Linked DNA regions of Homo sapiens: region 1 is linked to region 2. Evidence: fine-mapped expression QTL. A gene starts in region 2. The other region holds a variant in brackets. All regions are shown on one strand. Distances are between the middles of the regions.

What was found.
Region 1: its variant is fine-mapped to the expression of SERPING1 in whole blood (TOPMed, PIP above 0.99).

What each region holds. Positions count from the first base shown.
Region 1 is chr11:57,642,689-57,645,594 of GRCh38, reverse strand. YPEL4 (yippee like 4) reads left to right here. Exons shown (of 5, transcript NM_145008.3): 5 at 1-508. The region is part of intron 1 of MIR130AHG (MIR130A host gene); the gene reads right to left. Among named protein-coding and RNA genes, the nearest start is that of MIR130A, 2.9 kb to the right of the region's middle. RefSeq lists an enhancer at 1,826-2,325. The variant G/C (reference allele first, on the strand shown) is at 1,343.
Region 2 is chr11:57,596,070-57,598,975 of GRCh38, reverse strand. SERPING1 (serpin family G member 1) reads right to left here and starts at 1,291. Exons shown (of 8, transcript NM_000062.3): 1 at 1,254-1,291; 2 at 655-727. The coding sequence starts at 705.

The DNA.
Region 1 (2,906 bases), 47 kb before region 2:
GGCAAGTAGATCATGGACCACAGAACAGCAGATGAGAAAAGACTTGGGTTGGAGTGAAATTCTGGTCTCAGACACCAGGAGACCAGAGTCTCTGAGGATGAAGTTTCCTACCCCTATTTGTAGGGAAAAGGACTTGAGTGCAGGGAAAACTCAAATCCCAGGCCCTGGGAAATAGTAAAATAATCAAAGGGTTTTCCATTTCACTCCACTTGTTAGTTTATCTTGGCACTGAAGAGGCACTTTCGAGTATCTAACTTTTGCCATTGGGTGGGGTGGGGACAGCTGCTCGCGGAACAGCCCCTAGTCGGCTGCTTCCAGAGTAAGCAGTCTTTATGGGCTTTCTCTGAGGCCCAGTCACTGCTCCTGGGACCCAGTCCCCTGGAGGGGAGGTGGAAAATCAGTGCTACGGGGCCAGTCTTTCCCGTGGCTGCCACCAGCGAATGAAACTTTTGTATGATACATAAAGTGCTTGAGTCTATTTTTAATAAAAAGGGAAAAAGCAACTTGAGGCAACCTGTCCTCTGACTTTCTTTCCCTGTGCATGTACCCATAAACTGTCCCCGTCACACACACACACCCCCACCCACCCGGGCCTGTCCCTTTATACCACTAGGGGGCAGCAGTTGCCCTGTCTATGGCAAGACTACTGCTTGAGCTTTTACCGGGGAATAAGCGTTCAGGTGAAGTTTTGCCTTAGTAAGAGGGGTGGGTTTTGTTAGCTACTCGGCGAGAGCATCCAAAACCGCTTGTGTCTGCTGGCACCCCTGACAGTAAGTCCATTTTGCCTAGATCCAGGATCGGGCTCTGAAAGAGGCTCATCTCAGAATAAGGATTTTCTTGAGTCCCGTGGCTTTTCAGCCTGGTTCTGTAATGCTCTGGTCAGTTCATGGGCACACTTAAGGCTAAAAGGAAAATCAGTCAGCCAAAGTGCTGCTCTGGCAGTTGATGGGAAGTGAAACAAAATAGCTCAAAAATTAGGCCGGGCGCGATGGCTCACGCCTGCAGTTCCAGCACTTTGAGAGGCCGAGGCTGGTGGATCACCTGATGTCAGGAGTTTGAGACCAGCCTGACCAACATGGCAAAACCCCGTCTCTACTAAAAATTCAAAAATTAGCCAGGCATGATGGCACGTGCCTGTAATCCCAGCTACTTGGGAGGCTGAGGCAGGAGAATCACTTGAACCCAGGAGGCAGAGGTTGCAGTGAGCCAAGATCGTGCTGCTGCACTCCAGCCTGGCGACAGGGCAAGACTCCGTCTCAAAAAAAAAAAAAAAAAAAAAAAAAAAAAGCTCAAAATCGCAACATCAATGCCACCATATGACCCAAGGGACATTTTATTGGCA[G/C]TGGTATGAAATCCCTACTGTTGTTGGGTGCCCAACAGTTACAGGGGAGACCATATACATCATAAAGATCATTTTTTGGTAAGCTATAATATTCTTTCCAGATTCATTCATTAATATTCCAAATATTTATAAAGCATCTATTACTTGCCAGGCATTGTGTTAAGCACTAGATGTTAAGCACATGGTGAAGATAAGGCAGCTGTGACCTGACTTCCTGGAGCTTTCTGTCCAGTAGGAGATGCAATAACCAGGAAATCCCAGTAGAAGATGATAATAAGGGATCTAAGCAGGGACGTGGAGGAAGCTTGGGAGCTCATAGGAAAGGAACTCAGCTTAGATGTAAGGAGTCAAGGAAGGCTTCACAAAAGCGATGACTACGATGGCATTTGAAAGATAAGAAGTTAGGTAGGCAAAGGCAAAAGTGATGGAAGTATTTCAGACAGAGTATGTGTCAAGTAACTTAAGTTTAGTTAATTGAAGGAAATAAAAGTTGCTTGTGGGCTGAAAGCAGTGGCTCACGCCTTAATTCCAGCACTTTAGGAAGCCAAGGCTGGAGGCTTGCTTGAGGCCAAACTTTGAGGTTAGCCTGGGCAATATAGCAAGATCTTGTCTCAAAAAAAAAAAAGCCATACCTGCACCTGTAGTCTCGACTACTCAGGAGGCTGAGCAGGAGGATCACTTGAGCCCAGGAGGCTGAGGTTGCAGTGAGCCATGATCACGCCACTGCACTCCAGCCTGGGCTGGAGCAAAACTTTGTCTCCTTAAAAAGTGGGTGAGAGGACATGAAAGGAAAGAGAAGCAGGAGCCATAAACTATTTAGGGAATCTAGATTTAATCCCAATGGTATTAGGGAAATATGGGAAAATTATTGTTTTTTAGAGTGGAGTGGCAGTATCAAATGGCTATTTGTGCCCAGACAAGAGGCTCAAATAGAAGTTTTAATAGACTGGAGAAAGTAAGGAACATATGGTAGGGTGCGGTGGCTCACACCCGTAATCCCAGCACTTTGGGAGGCTGAGGTGGGCGATCACTTGAGGCCAAGAGTTTCAGACCAGCTTGGACAACAAAAATTAGCCAGGCATGGTGGTGCACGCCTGTAATCCCAGCTACTCAGGAGGTTGAGGCAGGAGAATCACTTGAACCTGGTAGGCAGAGGTTGCAGTGGGCCGAGATCGCGCCACTGCACTCCAGCCTGGGCGACAGTGAGATTCTGTCTTAAAAAAAAAAAAAAAAGGGAAATAAAGCTAACTGTACTATCTCAAATACTGTTGTTGTGATCAGAATGGAGAGGCTGTCTGGGCAGGAGAAAGGAGGACTAGAACTGGAAGGCACAGAAGTAAAAGGGCAAGGGAAAAAGGCAAGCCATGGAGAGATGTCCAACATCCCTCAACTAAGGCCTCAGGGGAGTCTGACCCATCTTTCAGTTTCTACATGCCTCATGATGCCAAGATCCCTCTCAGGGTCCAGCAGAGGACCTCAAAACCCTATTCCTCTTGGACCCATTTCTTGCACCAAAGTTTAGGGAAGATTTCTCAAGTCCCAAACTCTGCTGTTGAAAACCAGG
Region 2 (2,906 bases):
CTGAGTATGTGATACCAACTTGCGCGTGCACACACACACACACGCACATACACACACCCCTACCTACCTTTCTCCTGGGATCCTGCACTTCTTAGCCTTATTTCTAGTCCATGACCTCCCAGACCACTGGGACCTCTCACTGCTATTGACCCCCACCCAGACCCACGTATGTTTGCTACCATTCTTCCCTGTCTTCACAGGCCCTAGCCTGGGACCACCGTCTGTGTCACAGCAGCCAAACCTCTCCTCCCCACAGCTCTTTTCTACAACAAACTCTTGCTTTGATATCACAAAATGCTTCCCATCTCCTTGCCCTATGTGATCCTCCTGCCAAGCCTGCTTGGTGGACAGGGTGGGATCTGTTTATTCAACATTTTATAAATCAGGAGGAGTAGGCTGAGAAAAGTGACGTCCTCAGGACCACGCTGCGCAGCTCCTACATGGCCCGCCAAGATTAGAACTTGCATCTGTCTGAGTCCTGAGCTCTTTCCACCATCTACGAGTGCGTGTGCAAGGATCACACTCAATGATCCCAAGAGGAGCTCTCCTCATTCCCCGGAGCCTGAAGGGTTAATCCTCAGCCACCGCCCGCACCCCGCACCATCCCGCCTCCCGTCTCCACCCCCGTCCCCCATCCCACAAGGGACCACATACCCCAGCCAGCAGCAGCAGCAGGAGGGTCAGCAGGGTCAGCCTGGAGGCCATCTGGGCGGCGACGTCAGCGGACCTGCGGAGCCAGCCAGCCTCGGAGCCAGCTCCCACCCTGGGAGCCCAGGGGCCCCCACCCCGCCCGGGGCCCGCCCCCATTCCGTCTCAGGCCCCAGTCCCTCTTAGCGAATTCCCTCCTCCTCCCTCCTGGGGCCACCTTCTCCCTGGCTCCTCCCTCTGTTTTGTTTTCCCCAAACCGCTTCCCTTTCCCGGCACCGGCTGGCCCTTCCTCTCCCCGTGGGCCCGGGTCTCTGTCCATCTGTTCAGTCGGAGGGGAGGTGGTGGGAGGGGGAGGGGGTCCTGCTTTAACCAAACAATGAGGCCAGAGGCGTGGGGGAGGGGAGGTCCTGGGGGGCTGAGCACAACAGGCCTGAGGCGGGAGGGGCTGGGGTAGGAGGAGGCAGAAGTCCCAGGTGGAAGCAAGCCTATAGAGACCCCCGAGATCAAGGCGGGCAGGAAGGCGGGGGTGAGGAGACCCCCTCCCTAGACCTCTTCACTCCATGCTTTCCACCCTACTCCCCACCCCTGCCCAGCACCAAACCTACTCCAAACTTCTGGTCACCAGGCAGCTCCAGTGCAGACTGAGTAGAGAGTCCCCCAGGGTCAGGGAGGGTGGGGTGCGGGGGGGGCAGTCTTAGCTATTGGCTGGCCCGGGACACTGCCCAGTTACAAATTAAGGAAGATTGATCGCTGGTGTGAGTTCCTGTAAATCAGGATGGGACGGAATGGGACTGACCGCTTGGTCTTCTTTGTGGGCCAGGCCAGGAATTTAGCCCAAATCCCCTGGTAGGTGGGGTGAACGGGGAAGCTTGGGTGCAGTTCTCAGCTTTACACAACCAAAGCTTCCCCCGCGTCTTCATGAGTAACAATAAAAACAGCATGTACACAAAATGTGCTCCGCAGTTTTTAAAGGAATGAACTTTTTGGAAATTGCTCACCTCCGTTATTCCTCAAAGTAACCCTTTGTGCCCCATTGTACCCATTTGATAGTTAAGATACTGAGCCTTAGAGCAGTGAAATGTCGGGCCCTGATCACCCTCATTTGGAGAAGTATTCTGAAGCCTAATCCCTGCTCCCATCTCCCCTGTGCCCTGTAGGTGTTCTGCCATTTTTGCTCGTAGAGACCCATAATCAGTAGTTCTTTGTATAACAGACAACGGATGTGAGGCACCCAGCTCAACAAGCATTCAACCTAATTAAAAAAAAAAAAAAAAAAAAAGCTAGCCGGGCACGGTGGCTCACGCCTGTAATCCCAGCACTTTGGGAGGCCGAGGTGGGTGGATCACTTGAGGTCAGGAGTTTGAGACCACTCTGGCCAATATGGGGAAACCCCGTTTCCGCTAAAAGTACAAAAATTAGCTGGGCAGTGCAGGCGCGCACATGTAGTCCCAGCTACTAGGGAGGCTGAGGCACAATCACTTGAATCTGGGAGGCAGAGGTTGCAGTGAGCTGAAATTGCACCACTGCACTCCAGCCTGGGTGACAGAGCAAGACTGTCTCAAAAAACAAATAACTAACTAAATAAATATTTAAAAACTTGAAAGCTGGGGTGTATGTGTTTGCGACTAGGGCTCCACAATAGACCTGGCTGGCTGTGTGAGCCAGCAAGTTGCTTTCCCCCTTGACGTCTGGCTGTCCTCGAAATCTGGCTGTCCTCGACATCTAGCTGTCCTCTCAGCATTGCCAGATAAAACACACGAAGTAGGCAGGCCTGGGGGTTCATACCTGTAATCCCAGCCTTTTAGGAGACTGAGGCAGGAGGATCCCTTGAGCCCAGGAGTTCAAGGCTGCAGTTAGCATTGATCATGCCACTGCACTCCAGCCTGGGCAACAGAGTAAGACACTTGCTGTCTCTAAAAAAAAAAAAAAAAACTTACATTGGGATATACTTATGGTAAAAATGCTTACATTGGAATATACTTATGGTAAAATAAATTTTGTTGTCATTGTTGTGTATCTGAAATTCAAATATAATTGGCATTTTGTATTTTTGCTAAATCTGATAACTCTGCCTCATCTGCAAAACAAACAGGTTGTCTCTGATGACCTAATATAGCTATCATGTTCTATCGTCATCTCACTGCAGGCCTATCCTCTGGCTGTGTTTGGAGCATTCAGGAAAGTTTGCTGCTAGCACCAGAACTGCTACTCTAAGGGACTGACCAAGGACAGAAACAGGAGAATATTTGTGTGTCTCC